Linked DNA regions of Homo sapiens. The protein of the gene in region 4 purifies or fractionates together with the protein of the main gene of each other region. This does not show direct contact. Each region holds a gene or a part of one and is shown on either strand. Other genes may lie near its edges.

Region 1 (4,185 bases), on a different chromosome or scaffold from region 4:
AGTGGAAACAACCCAAGTGCCCATCAACAGCACAAACATTTATACCATTGAATGCCTTACGGCAAGGTAACAGGATCAAGTACAGCTACATGGAACACATAGATGAGGGAAATAAAACACAAAATACATTAAAATATAAAAAGCACAATTCTATGTATATAAGGTTACATAACATTTTCAAAATCAGCAACGTTTTAATTAATTTAATTAATTTAGAATTCTCCTGCAGAGGAGTTTTCTCTCTTTTCTCCAATGTGTTAATTTATTTAATCATTTATTTACAACAGCACAGATTAATATTTATTTTATATTTTGGAATATGATATAGTAGTATTTTAGTTTGTTCCTTAAATTGTTCAAGATTTGGCCATTGGGAGCTGTTTTATTGGTTTTTGTACCCCTCTAAAATTACCCCATCAATGCTTTTGTTTGTTTTCTATTTATCACATCCTTATTTTCCAGCACTCCAAGATGCTCTAGGCCCTTTCTGTATATTTCCTTTCCAGATTTAGAAACTGTATTTCTTCATCAGTATTGCTAGATTGTTTTTTTCTTTAAAAGTGTTAGATTTCAGTTTTATTAATCATCTTTTTAAAAAAACATATTGTCCCTTTTATTTGTAATTCTATTTTTATTTTAATGTTTTATTTTTTGTTTTGGTTTTGTTTTACTAATTGCTTGACTTCAACATAAAAAAAGTTTTAGAAATGTGGTTATTAATTTTCAAGTAAATATGATTGGATTCAGGTTTTTTATTTTTAACCTTCAATATTATTTCACTGAGGTCCAGATGTGCTGAATTTATTGACCTATTAAATTTTAATTGACATTTATTTTGTAGTCTTGTATTGGGAAATTCTTCTGTTTTCTATATATTTTTGGTTGTTGCAGGTTATATGATCAAAATTGTTGTTTGTTGTGCAAATTATTATAGCATTACTAGTTTTGTTCTCTGCACTATTGATTTCTGAGAAAACGGTGTTACGGGGAAAAAACAAACTTCCATCATGAGTGCAGATTTTTCAGTTTTACCTTATAACTCTCAGTCTTGGCTATGTGTCACTGTTATGTGTTTAGGTGCGTTAAGTTCATCACTGTAATGTTTTCCTAGTGAATTTTCTTTTCAATAACTATGAAATGTGCTCCTTTGATCCTATCAATACACTGGATATTAATATTGTTGCCCTAGGTTTCTTTTGTTTAATATTTGTCTGGATTGCCTGTTCCCATAAATTGACCTTTAATCAGTTAGCTTTGTTCTTAAGATTGGTTTAAAACGTAGAATAATAGGGAGGAGCATGGGAGGGTGGGACGTCTAATGTAAATCCAGCCCAGTGATTACATTAGCTGGGCGCTGATTAGGTTAGGATGTTGCCCAGGTACAAGGCCAGGATCTTCGGGGCCTGGCTTCATTTGGAGTTCAGCTACCAAAAGGAAACCTTCCTCTGGGTCCTGGAGTATTTGGCCTGAAATTGGGAACTCGGAAGTTGCTGCTCCAGGGCGCTCCCTGCGGAGCTCCGCCGCCCGCCTCTCCGCCCGGCCTTTCCCGGCGTCCCCACGCGGGGCGCAACCGCGAGAAAGAAACGCAGGTCGCACCGTCAGCGCCCAGAGCAGCGCCAGTTTCCGGGCCCGGGCTGCTCTCGGAGCCATGAGCTGCGGCCGCCCCCCTCCCGACGTGGACGGCATGATCACCCTCAAGGTGGACAACCTGACCTACCGCACCTCTCCCGACAGCTTGAGGCGCGTGTTCGAGAAGTACGGGCGCGTGGGCGACGTGTACATCCCGCGGGAGCCCCACACCAAGGCGCCCCGGGGCTTCGCTTTCGTCCGCTTTCACGACCGGCGCGACGCCCAAGACGCCGAGGCCGCCATGGACGGGGCGGAGCTGGACGGACGCGAGCTGCGGGTGCAGGTGGCGCGCTATGGCCGCCGGGACCTGCCCCGCAGCCGCCAGGGAGAGCCACGCGGCAGGTCCAGAGGCGGCGGCTACGGACGGCGGAGCCGCAGCTACGGGCGGCGGAGCCGCAGCCCCAGGCGGCGACACCGCAGCCGATCCCGGGGTCCCAGCTGCTCCAGGTCCCGCAGCCGATCTCGCTATAGGGGTTCTCGCTATAGCCGGTCTCCCTACAGCCGATCTCCTTACAGCCGGTCGCGCTACAGCCGCTCTCCCTACAGCAGATCTCGCTACAGGGAATCTCGCTACGGCGGATCTCACTACAGCTCATCTGGTTACAGTAACTCTCGCTACAGCCGATATCACAGCAGCCGGTCTCACTCGAAGTCTGGGTCCTCCACTAGCTCTCGCTCTGCATCAACCTCCAAATCGAGCTCTGCGCGACGATCCAAGTCCTCCTCGGTCTCCAGGTCTCGCTCGCGGTCCAGGTCTTCATCTATGACCAGGAGTCCTCCCCGGGTATCCAAGAGGAAATCCAAGTCAAGGTCGCGATCCAAGAGGCCCCCCAAGTCTCCTGAAGAGGAAGGACAGATGTCCTCTTAAGAAAATGATGCATCAGGAAGCAACGTGATGGAGGACTTGGGGGAAAAGGATCACATACTCAGTCTATGGAAGCAACGTCCCTGGAAGAAGAGGCTGCCTATTGAAAAGGTTGTGTCACACTTTTCTACCTTTTTGCCAGTTTGAAGCTTTGCATCAGGTGGCAAAATTCATTCTATGTGCCGTTTTGTTGTTATTCACATTTTATTGTAACTTAGGAGGTGAACGACCTAAGATTACGTTATTGGGTTTGGATATTTGAGGCAAAAATTTATTTTTATTTCTATAGTGATGACTGTTTTGGTTTGAAATGAACAGATTGGTAACCTAATTTGTGGCCTCCTGACTTTTAAGGAAACGTGTGCAGCCATTACACACAGCCTAACGCTGTCAAGACATGCTTCAACATTGCCTTCATTCCTTAAAAACCTACAAAAGGTGGTGTAAATTAATATGGATAATTTTATTTACCTCCAGGTCTAAAAGGTAGTGTGACCCAAATTTGTATAAAGATTTTTCATGTGAAAGGACTGGGGTTTTAGCAAACACAGGTCTAATCTCTTTTGTGTTTTTGTGCACCAGGCCCGGCTGCGTAGCAGTTGAGTGATGCTGGTTAGCTATTAAGGTGGCCTGTTGCAGTGCAGAGTGCTGAGCTGCTTCCTGTTTTCTTCTGATTGCTCCTGGGGAAAACACGCCTTGTCCTGAAGAACAAATGGCTGTCCAGTTTATTAAAATGCCTGTCAACTGCACTTCCAGTCACCCAGGCCTTGCAGATAAATAATGGAGCATGCAGTGAGCACATCTAGCTGACGATAATCACACCTTTTCCCCCGTCTTTTCTGAAAAATTGTAAATCTGATCATATCAACATGTATGAACTTAAAATATGGAGAATGTTATGGAAGAAATAGTTTATAAGTTTGTTAAGTACTTATAACATGGTTTATCTTTTTGATTATTAATTTTTTACGCTAACCATTGTTTCTGTAGTTAAAATTGTTTTCTTGGTGTTATCTTTTCTCAGAATAAAATTAGAAACTTTTGATGGAAAGTAGGTTGTTTTATTTTCTGTATGACTTTTGGATATTTGTACTTTTGAGAAAATTATTAGCACCAAGTGTTTCTCAAAATATAATTTTTAAAAAATCCTTAATAGGCTTTTAGCTATGTGCTTTATTGTTTTATCACAATGCAGTTTATTTGTAGTTTCTCTCTTTTTTCCTCACACCTATGGTTTTTTTACTTCCAAAATTATTTTCAAATAATCCATTTTTGGCTTTCATCATTATCCCTACTAGATGTTATGTGTTCTTTTGCAATTGTTTCTGCTTATACCTTTACTAGCAAAGGGAAAAATAACAATTTGGTGTCAATGATCTGGTGACAATAGGATTACATTGGAGCCAATTGAATAAATTTATTCTTTCAATCATATGGATCTTCATTAATATTTTTGACTGAATTATCAATTAAAAATATTTCATTCCCTTTGTGCAGAAACTGCTAAATCCAGGGTTCGATTCTTGAATGAACTGGCAAGGTGGCTGTGGTCTGTAGATATACATCCCACATTTTGTTGTTATAACAGTTAGTAGTTAGTATTGCTTTCATATATAGACTCCAGAATCTAAATTTTACGATAATGACATTTCTTCTGGTCATGACAAATGTAATATTTTACAAATATAAAT
Region 2 (2,803 bases), on a different chromosome or scaffold from region 4:
GTTAGCCTGCCATGGTGGCGTGCACCTGCAGGAGGCTGAGGCAGGAGAATCGCTTGAGCCCAGGAGTTCGAGGCTGCAGTGAGCTATGATTGCACCACTGCACTCCAGCCTGGGCAATAGAGTGAGACCTTCCCCCCAAAAAAATTTTTTTAATAATATAGATTAAAGGGTCCCTTCTGTTGCAGTTAAGGAGCTGGAGGCCTTTTCTACCTGCCCCTAACTCTTTCTCAAGGCGGCTTCCTCCATTTTCACTCGTTCTCTCAAGTACATTGAGCACCTCCTTGTGCCAGGAACTGTTTGTGGCACCGCAGAGCCAGCAGTGGGGAAGACAGGAGCTCACGGCAGAGTTGGGGAGAGAGTTATAACAGCCAGCAGAGGGCACTGTGAGCGTGGACATGCAGCCTGCATGTGAGCTTGAACCATGATGGGCTTCTCAGAGGAGGGGTGTCTTGTGTTGGGTATTGAAGGGTGAGTAGGAGTTCACCAAGCGAGTGCATGGAAAAGGGGGCATCCCTGGTGAAGGGAATAGCATGGGTAAAGGCGTGGAGATGAGAAGCCATGGTGTGACTCAGGAAGTGCCAGACCAGGCTATGTGGGATGGAGAATGGGCAGAGGCCTTGAGTGCCAAGCCTAGGGCAGTGGGGAGCCATAGAGGAGTTTAGAGCAGAGGAGGAATGTGGTCAGTGCAGCAGTGGAAGAGTGGGCATGGGGCAGTGAGCAGGGGTTGTGGCGAGGGGCCAGACTGGGCCCTGGATCCGGGCCAGACCCCCACATGTGTCCCCATCACCTGCAGGCCCCAAAGCCCAAGAGGAAGGTGGAGGTCTGGGAGCAGAGCGTTGGCAGCCTGGGCAGCCGGCCCCCGCTGTCGAGGCTGGTCGTGGTGAAGAAGGCAAAGGCCGACCCGGACTGCAGCAACGGGCAGCCTCAGGCGGCCCCCACCCCAGGTAAGGTCACAGAGTTCCCAGAGCCGGGCGCGGTTTCTATAGTGGCCTGTAGGTGGCAGCAGCTCCCTTTGCAGTTACAGAGACTTCATGGGGTGGGTGGGGGCGGCCTGCGACCCCCACAGGACCAATTAGTGGAGTGAGCAGAGAAGGCAGGCGGCTTCTTTTTTTCTTTTTTCTTTTTTCTTTTTTTTTTTTTGAGACAGAGTCTTGCTCTGTTGCCCAGGCTGGAGTGCAGTGGTGCCATCTCGGCTCACCGCAACCTCCGCCTCCCTGGTTTGAGCAGTTCTCTGCCTCAGCCTCCCAAGTAGCTGGGACTACAGCACCACGCCCGGCTAAATTTTTGTATTATTAGTAGAGGTGGGATTTCTCCATGTTGGTCAGGCTGGTCTGGAACTCCCGACCTCAGGTGATCCACTCACCTCGGCCTCCCAAAATGCTGGGATTACAGGCATGAGCCACCGCGCCCGGCCTGTTTTTGTCTTTTAGTTGCCTTAGTATGATGTTTCCTAAGGCGATTAAGTCCACAGTGACTGGACTGTGAACTTTGCGCCATTTCCATTCTTGGCAGCGCACGTTGCCTGCCTGGGCAAGGTTTGCATTGGCCATTGTTCAGAAGCGGAGCTGTTGAGTCCCGGGTGTGCAGATGTAAATCTGCAATGGGTCCCATCAGGTGCCATCCAGAAAGGCCAGGCCATTCACATGCTGTCACCTCTGGACCTTGCAAACCTGCAGAGGTGGCCGGCCCCGTGCCTTGTCCCTGGCCTGTCTGCTGTGGAGCTGAGATGAGCTAACTCTCGCTCTCCCACCAGGAGCCCCGCAGAACAGGAAGGAGGCCAACCCTACACCCCTGACGCCTGGCGCGTCCTCCCTGAGCCAACTGGGTGCATACCTGGACAGTGACGACAGCAACGGCAGCAACTGAGCCCTCCCAGGACCCCCTCACGGGGTCAAAGTCACACGTCCAGCTTCAGCCACATTGAGGCCAGCATTGCTGGTGGTCAGGGCAGGAGGCCTTGGCGTGACTGGAGGCCGGACAGACAAGCGCCAGCGTGCTCCAACACATAGGGCCACCAGGGGCCTCAGCCCCAGGAGGTCCCTTCTCTGTGCCCTCACCAGCCTCTCAACACCTCGGGGACCCCTGCTGCTCCTGCCCCCACCTGTCACTGTGCTTAGGGCTGCAACATCCCTGGAGCAGCTTCCAACACTACTTCAGGGTGGCAGTGTTTGGGGCACTGGGCGAGCCTGCCGGCCTCTAGATGGCCTCATCTCTTCCTTCCACAAACTGTCTAGAACCAATAAAAGGAAACCTGCCAACCGCCTGGGCCCCTTCTCTCTCCCAGAGTCTGATGAGGAGGTCCCAGGACCTCCTCTGTTAGCACAATTCGAGGGTCATTCCACAGAGGTTTGTTTGTGTCTTGAGACAGGATCTCACTCTGTTGCCCAGGCTGGAGTGCGGTAGCGTATTCTTGACTCACTGCAGCCTTGAACTTCCGAGCTCAGGTGATCCTCCCACCTCAGCCTCGCGAGTCGCTGAGACCTCAGGTGGATGCCACCATTCCTGGCTAACTTTTTGTATATTTAGTAGAGACTGGGTTTCATCATGTTGCCCAGGCTGATCTTGAACTCATGGGCTCAAGTGATCCTCCTGCCTCAGCCTCACAAAGTGCTGGGGTCACAGGCATAAGCCACTGTAACAGGCATGAGCCCAGATATTTATATTTAGTTGTCGCCTGAGTGTGCATCTGGGCTCTTTTTGTTTTCTCTTCTTTTTTTTTTTCTTTCTTTACCTTTTTTTTTTTTTTTTTTTTTTGGAGACGACGTCTCGCTCTTGTCCCCCAGGCTGGAGTGCGATGGCGCGA
Region 3 (3,548 bases), on a different chromosome or scaffold from region 4:
CATCACACCCAGCTAATTTTTTGTATTTTTAGTAGAGACGGGGTTTCACCGTGTTAGCCAGGATGGTCTGGATCTCCTGACCTCGTGATCTGCCCGCCTTGGCCTCCCAAAGTGCTGGGATTACAGGCGTGAGCCACCGTGCCCGGCCATTCCTTTTCATAATTAGTAAAAATATATTTGCTTAAATAATCTTTATTACAACACCTTGTGAAATAAGATAGAGAAATGTGGAAATGATAGCTTACATAACTTGTCCAAGGTCACAAACTAGAAAATGCCAAATTCTAAAATAGGCACTTTCACACAGTTTTCTAATTTATTACTCCGAGCAACCTGATACAGAAGTGCTACATGACTCATTATTACTGTTTTACAGATGATAAAACAATCTGAGATTAGGGACTTTACCCAAATTCATTCACGCAGCTAAAGAAGAGACAGAGTAGTAGGCATTCAAATCCAGACCTTTAAATAGAAATTATGCCTTATTAAACTGGGATTTGGTCTCCTGATGAATAGCCATTTCTCAACAGTGAGATATAGCTATTCTTCTGTAGGGCGAATGGCAGTAAAGATACTAGGGTTGATACTCAAACTAGATTTCCATAGGCTGGTGCTCTCACATCTTTGTAGTTATATGGAAAAAACCAGGATTATACACCAGGGCAAGCAAGCAAGAAAGAATTATCTTTTTCTAGCTTAGCTTTTGAGTTAAGTTAGAAGGAGTTCCAAATATGTGGCAGGTAACACTGCTATTCACATAGATAATTTCTGTCTTTTTGATCACATGATGGTCCTTTATTGGAAAACAAATACAGGCAAAATCAAATAACAGACCCATTTTTTAGAAGTGATTTTCAGATTCCTATAAAATCAATTATGTCATAATTTTTTAGCCTTTCTTTTTCATTCATAAAATATATATCAGAAACTCTACACTCTTACCCAGATTTTAGATTAGCAAGTGACTTTTTTATTTTGCTTCCCCATTCTGCCCTTTGGCCTTTTATTGCCGGTTAACGTCTTCCAGTTACTTTAGAGGAAGGGCTGGGAAAGGTTCAGAACTCATCATTGGGTCTTGCTGCTTATCAGCCCTTCGGGTTTTTTTTTTTTTTTGAGATGGAGTCTCGCTCTGTCGCCCAGGCTGGAGTGCAGTGGTGTGATCTCGGCTCACTGCAACCTCCGCCTCCCGGGTTCAAGCGATTCTCCTGCCTCAGCCTGCCAAGTAGCTGGGACTACAGGCACACGCCACCACGCCCAGCTAATTTTTGTATTTTTAGTGGAGATGGGGTTTCAGCATGTTGGCCAGGGTGGTCTCGATCTCCTGACCTCGTGATCCGCCCGCTTCAGCCTCCCAAAGTGCTGGGATTACAGGTGTGAGCCACCGCACCCTGCCACTTCTGGTTTTAGTGGTTGTAAAATGTAGGTAAGCAAAGCTTAGTTATTAGTTGTAGCTTTATTGACATGTATAATAATTAATTGTAAAAGCATAATTAATATAGTGATTTTTAGTTTACACTTTTTAGAATTTAGAAAGTTTGTCTATTGATAAGTTAAACTTACTTGAGTGATTTGAGTTCCATAATAAAAAAATTGTTTCCTTACCAGTACATCTATACTATATGAGACCGAGTAAAAAAGCTCAGTAAAATTGATAAATGAACATTGCTCAGATTTTTTCCTACTCTAGTTTATAAAGCAATGCCTTGTCATGACACTAGATGGCATAGCACTTCTGCTCAAATCACTGATAGCCAGTTACTTTTTAACTTCAGTAGTTTGTGGTTTTGTTATTCAGTTAATTTACTTGTAATAAGTGGCAAATTAAAAGCAAAAATATCTCAGTATCATCTAAATGTATGCTAATGCATAGTGAATATTATAGTAAACTTAGTACTTTCCATTTTTATATTATCACTACTGAAAATCTCAAAAGAGGAGCTTAGTGATAATTAACTCGTTAAAAAGCAAAAGGTGCCGGGTGCGGTGGCTCACGCCTGTAATCCCAGCACTTTGGGAGGCCGAGGTGGGTGGATCACGAGGTCAGGAGATAGAGACCATCCTGGTTAACACCGTGAAACCCCGTCTCTACTAAAAATACAAAAAATTAGCTGGGTGTGATGGCAGGCACCTGTAGTCCCAGCTGCTTGGGAGGCTGAGGCAGGAGAATGGCGTGAACCTGGGAGGTGGAGATTACAATGAGCTGAGATGGTGCCACTGCACTCCATCCTGGGCAACAGAGCAAGACTCCATCTCAAAAAAAAAAAAAAGCAAAACGTTTGGCTTGTTTTGGTGGTATACCATGTTATTTGGTTTGTGGAGCCAGTGTTTTTGTATGAACATGATGAACTACTGATTAAAACTTTGATTTGTAAATTCCTGGGGTGAGTTGATCTGAATTGTATTTTATTCCACTGCCTACATAAATCCATAGTGCTCTGTGAAGCATATGAATAACATCACCGTGCTGTGCTTGAAGGGGAGTGAAGATGAATGGTATTGATTGTTATCTGCATCAATAAATGAGATATTCTGATTATGGTACAGTCAGCAGAAGGGAATTGAAGGCTTAAGATTTTAATATTTCCTTCAAGGAATTTATGATTTGATGTCAGTAGTTCCTCACATTTTTTAATAATGAAGGCTCCTTTCAATATCAAGATATTTTATAGATCTCCACATGATAACCTGTTGAACTTTTTGAGTATCTGTTGATCAAGAAAATAAAGTCAAAAGCTACAATTAATTAGTAATGTGCTCAAAATAAATTTGTATTTTATAAATCATAACATCTTTTCCATGTTACTCTGTCTATATGGAGTTCTTAATACCACACATTTGCTTAGGGAGATGGAATTAGCAACTAGTCTGTGCTACCCTGTATTTTTTTTTTAACCATGTAGTTGGATTTTTTAAAATACAATAAAAGAGTTCACTTTTCCAGGTTTGACAACATTTTTATGAATTGGAAATTTTCTGTGGCTACAGATACTATTAACATTTTGGAAAGGTGTAAAGAACATTGTTTTAATGTAAGGCTCTTCTCTAACCTCCCTCCCCTCTCCAAATTCTCCATAATATGAAGTAGGAAGATATGTATTTTTCTGTTGCCATTAAAATGTTCTGGCCATCGTGGGAGTGGGGATGGGGAGGGCGGGGATGGGAATTAGAACTTACTAGAATAAAATTCCAAATAGAGGTTTGGGGAAACCTACTTGTGAGTGCTTTTTAACCTCAAAATAAGGATTTGGGGTGGGTGGAGAAGGTGATGGGGCAGAAGAAGTTGTTTTTGGAGGAGAGAAAGCAGATTGAAAGGAAAAGGACAGCTGATAGCCACTTAAATAATGTCATCGTTAGAGTGATACCTATTTTTTGTAAAAAGAAAACAATATGCTCCATTCTTACAAAGCATTGATTGTATTTTAATATATACAATGTAAATACTATCATGCAGTGGTGTCCAAGGGAGAGAATACAGTCATGAGTTCTTAGTTTCTGTTATTGGTTGGGCCAATAAAGCCCCTTCATCATCCTTCTTTTCTGCTTAT
Region 4 (3,548 bases):
GTCCTTCCCCTTGCCATCACCTGGGAGGCCTGGGGGTCCCAGGGTAGCTAGGAGGGTTACGGGGTGGCTGGGAGGGTTACGCCCACCTGATCAGCGAGGTAGACTTCTCCTGGGTGGCGCTGTGGGCTGCCTGGGGCCAGGTGGAGCCTCTTCGCCTTTGAACCACCCCCTGCCTGCAGTTCTGGATGTCTGCACTGGCCACCACCATCCCAGTTCCCTGTGGGGCCTTCATGCCTGTCTTTGTCATTGGTGAGTTCTCAGCTGCCTGCTCACCCAGCCTGCACCTTCCTCAGCCTCTGGCCACCCCCCCAGCCAACCCTCTGCCCAAGAGCGGGTTTTTGGTCCAGCCCTAGCCCGAACCCTGACCCCACAGGGCTGTGCCCTACACTGAATGACCCGTTGGCCCCTCCCTCACCCTCTGACCCTCTCTCTTCCTAGTGCCCCCTGCCCTCCCCCTCCACTGCCTCTTTCTCTTCCCACCCCCCTCCCTGAAGGAGCAGCATTTGGGCGTCTGGTGGGTGAAAGCATGGCTGCCTGGTTCCCAGATGGAATTCATACGGACAGCAGCACCTACCGGATTGTGCCTGGGGGCTACGCTGTGGTCGGTGAGTGCCTCAGGTCCCATCGGCCTTGGGAGACCCCCCCACCCACGCCCCAGCCACAGGGTCCGAGACTCTGGTGCCCCCTGCTGGCAGAAACCAGGCTTCCCTCAGATGCACAGGTCCAATCCCAGGACTGTATTGGGCAGCCCTGAGGGACCCACTCAGGACCTGCCCTGGTTGTGGAGGGTCTTCTGGGACCTGGGCACCCTGAGGAGACTGAGTGTGACTGTCCCCAGGGGCAGCTGCGCTGGCAGGAGCGGTGACACACACAGTGTCCACGGCTGTGATCGTGTTCGAGCTCACAGGCCAGATTGCCCACATCCTGCCTGTCATGATCGCCGTCATCCTGGCCAACGCTGTCGCCCAGAGTCTGCAGCCCTCCCTCTATGACAGCATCATCCGAATCAAGAAACTGCCCTACCTGCCTGAGCTCGGCTGGGGCCGCCACCAGTACGGAGGGCTGGGTGCCAAGGGGGCTGTGGGTGAAGGGCAGAGGGCATCCTAGATCCCCCTACAGCCACCTCTAGCAAGGTCCTGGAGCCTACGAAGCTGGGAGATGAGCCACCTTCGTCCACACTCTGGAGGGGCTGTAGCTGGCCCCTGCTGTTCAGAAAGAAGGGTGGGAGCACCCCTTGGTCCTTAGCTCCCGTCCCCATGGATGGGCTCTGGAGCCCTCCTTGTGGCCCTGGGATGGCAATGCTCTGGGCACCTCTCCCCATGCTGACCACAAACCAAGCGCCTCTCTCGGCCCCCAGGCAGTACCGGGTGCGTGTGGAGGACATCATGGTGCGGGATGTTCCCCATGTGGCCCTCAGCTGCACCTTCCGGGACCTGCGTTTGGCACTGCACAGGACCAAGGGCCGAATGCTGGCCCTAGTGGAGTCCCCTGGTGAGGCCAGGAGGGGTCCCAGGTGCTAGGGGCATTGCCCAGGGTCGAAGCTTCGGGAAGGGGCAGGGAGCTCAGGACCAGTCTCCTTGGTTCCAAAGGGAATGGACCAGCACTTGCCAGGTGGGGGCTTCCCTCTGGTGTGTGGCCTGCATGCAAGGCCCCCCACTCTGAGTGTGAGAGAAGGACGGGGCTGGAGGGCTCCCTCTCAGCTCCTGAGTCCTTCCACCTGTTCTGTCCAGAGTCCATGATTCTGCTGGGCTCCATCGAGCGTTCACAGGTGGTGGCATTGTTGGGGGCCCAGCTGAGCCCAGCCCGCCGGCGGCAGCACATGCAGGAGCGCAGAGCCACCCAGACCTCTCCACTATCTGATCAGGAGGGTCCCCCTACCCCTGAGGCTTCTGTCTGCTTCCAGGTGAGGGGAAAAGCCACAAACGCTTCCTAAATGTCATTGTGTAGACTGATTGGGAGGGTGGTCTGGGGCCGTGGCCTCACCAGCCCCTTCCTGCCTATGCAGGTGAACACAGAAGACTCAGCCTTCCCAGCAGCCCGGGGGGAGACCCACAAGCCCCTAAAGCCTGCACTCAAGAGGGGGCCCAGTGTCACCAGGAACCTCGGAGAGAGTCCCACAGGTAAGCCCATGTCTCCTGTGTCCACAGAGCCTCAGCCAAGCTACTGAGATCCATTAGAGTCCCTGCCCAGCCCTGTTGCTGGGGTACATCCCAGCTGGAAGAGGCTGCCCACATGGGCCAGGGCTGGAACTGGGATACCTCTCCCTGTGTCTTCCTTACCTTTCCTGGTCCTCTCCCCAAAAGATGACATTGCCCCCTGGGGCCTTATGTTTGGGAACACAGGGAGCGCAGAGTCGGCAGGCATCGCCCTCCGGAGCCTCTTCTGTGGCAGTCCACCCCCTGAGGCTGCTTCGGAGGTGAGTGGCTGGAGCCTGTCCTCCTAGCTTGCTTTTTCCCCAGCTCCCTCTCCAATGCTGAGACCACGTCATTAACCCTGCAGTGCCTGCCTCTATTCTCCCTGCCCTTCGGCCCTCCCTGCTGTCAGCTCAGGTCCTGTGGCGTGCCCTTTCCCCTGGGCTCCACCACTTCCCCTCACCTCCCCTCTCCCTATAACCTCAACTCCTCATCTTTCTGGTTTGGCTCTAACAAAACTGAAGAAGTTGGAATCCTGTGAGAAGCGCAAGCTGAAGCGTGTCCGAATCTCCCTGGCAGTAAGTATGCCTGCTCTTCTAGCATCTCGGCGGCACCGGGCAGGGAGGGCAGGGTCTAGGCTGGATAAACTCCAGAGCCCCTAGCTGCCAGCCTCCCTCCCTCTCTACTAGAGTGACGCGGACCTGGAAGGCGAGATGAGCCCTGAAGAGGTAAGGTGCCACTGGACTCTGGACCCTGTTTCTTCCTGGTTGTGTTCAATCATCATGTTGGCTGCTGTCCCCATGGGAGGGACCACGGGGTTGGAAAAAGGGCAGGCCAGCTTTCAGGGAGGTGAGGTCAGCTACAGGCACCTTCTCCCTAAACCTCATAGTCTCTTCCCCTCAGATTCTGGAGTGGGAGGAGCAGCAACTAGATGAACCTGTCAACTTCAGTGACTGCAAAATTGATCCTGCTCCCTTCCAGCTGGTGGAGCGGACCTCTTTGCACAAGGTAGGGCCAGCAGCCTGGCCCAGGGCTGGTCTAGGCTCTCAGGACACAGTGGGGATCTTGGTCCCCCTACAAGTTTGGACTCAGGCCAGTGGGGAAGGAGGGAGGAGAAGGGAGTTGGCTCAGTGCGGAGATGTTTTTTAGACATACTGCTTGGATGATGGGAGGTGGGAGCAGCCTCCTCCTGCTCTGTGGTGGAGCCAGGCATCGTTTTTCCTCTGCTCAGCCTTGCCCTCGAGGGAACTCTGGACCAACGAAGCAACAAAGACAGGGATTGAGCTGGGTGGAAGCCAGAAGGCCAGGCCAGGGTCAGAGCTAGGCGGGAGGCCACCACAGCCCAGCAAGGTTGATACGCCCATGCGGAAAAAAACGGGTGAGAAACAGGCAGGATAAGAAAATGCAATAAACAAG

The links.
Region 1: the proteins of CLCN2 (region 4) and SRSF8 purify together in Homo sapiens (affinity purification with mass spectrometry; one large-scale study listed by BioGRID and IntAct). This does not show direct contact.
Region 2: the proteins of CLCN2 (region 4) and YJU2 purify together in Homo sapiens (affinity purification with mass spectrometry; one large-scale study listed by BioGRID and IntAct). This does not show direct contact.
Region 3: the proteins of CLCN2 (region 4) and C1orf52 purify together in Homo sapiens (affinity purification with mass spectrometry; one large-scale study listed by BioGRID and IntAct). This does not show direct contact.

Annotation. Positions count from the first base shown.
Region 1 is NC_000011.10:95,065,579-95,069,763, forward strand, and holds the start of SRSF8 (serine/arginine-rich splicing factor 8), read left to right. Parts: upstream 1-1,340; 5' UTR 1,341-1,648; coding exon 1,649-2,497; 3' UTR 2,498-4,185. UniProt on the Homo sapiens protein: Involved in pre-mRNA alternative splicing.
Region 2 is NC_000019.10:4,266,831-4,269,633, forward strand, and holds the end of YJU2 (splicing factor YJU2), read left to right. Parts: intron 1-793; coding exon 794-944; intron 945-1,753; coding exon 1,754-1,866; 3' UTR 1,867-2,258; downstream 2,259-2,803.
Region 3 is NC_000001.11:85,253,118-85,256,665, reverse strand, and holds part of C1orf52 (UPF0690 protein C1orf52), read left to right. Parts: intron 1-3,548.
Region 4 is NC_000003.12:184,351,605-184,355,152, reverse strand, and holds part of CLCN2 (chloride channel protein 2), read left to right. Parts: intron 1-179; coding exon 180-249; intron 250-438; coding exon of another isoform or gene 439-494; coding exon 495-605; intron 606-838; coding exon 839-1,052; exon of another isoform or gene 1,053-1,053; intron 1,054-1,357; coding exon 1,358-1,491; intron 1,492-1,730; coding exon 1,731-1,903; intron 1,904-2,005; coding exon 2,006-2,120; intron 2,121-2,342; coding exon 2,343-2,416; intron 2,417-2,656; coding exon 2,657-2,710; intron 2,711-2,821; coding exon 2,822-2,860; intron 2,861-3,035; coding exon 3,036-3,140; intron 3,141-3,363; coding exon of another isoform or gene 3,364-3,456; exon of another isoform or gene 3,457-3,548. UniProt on the Homo sapiens protein: Voltage-gated and osmosensitive chloride channel. Forms a homodimeric channel where each subunit has its own ion conduction pathway.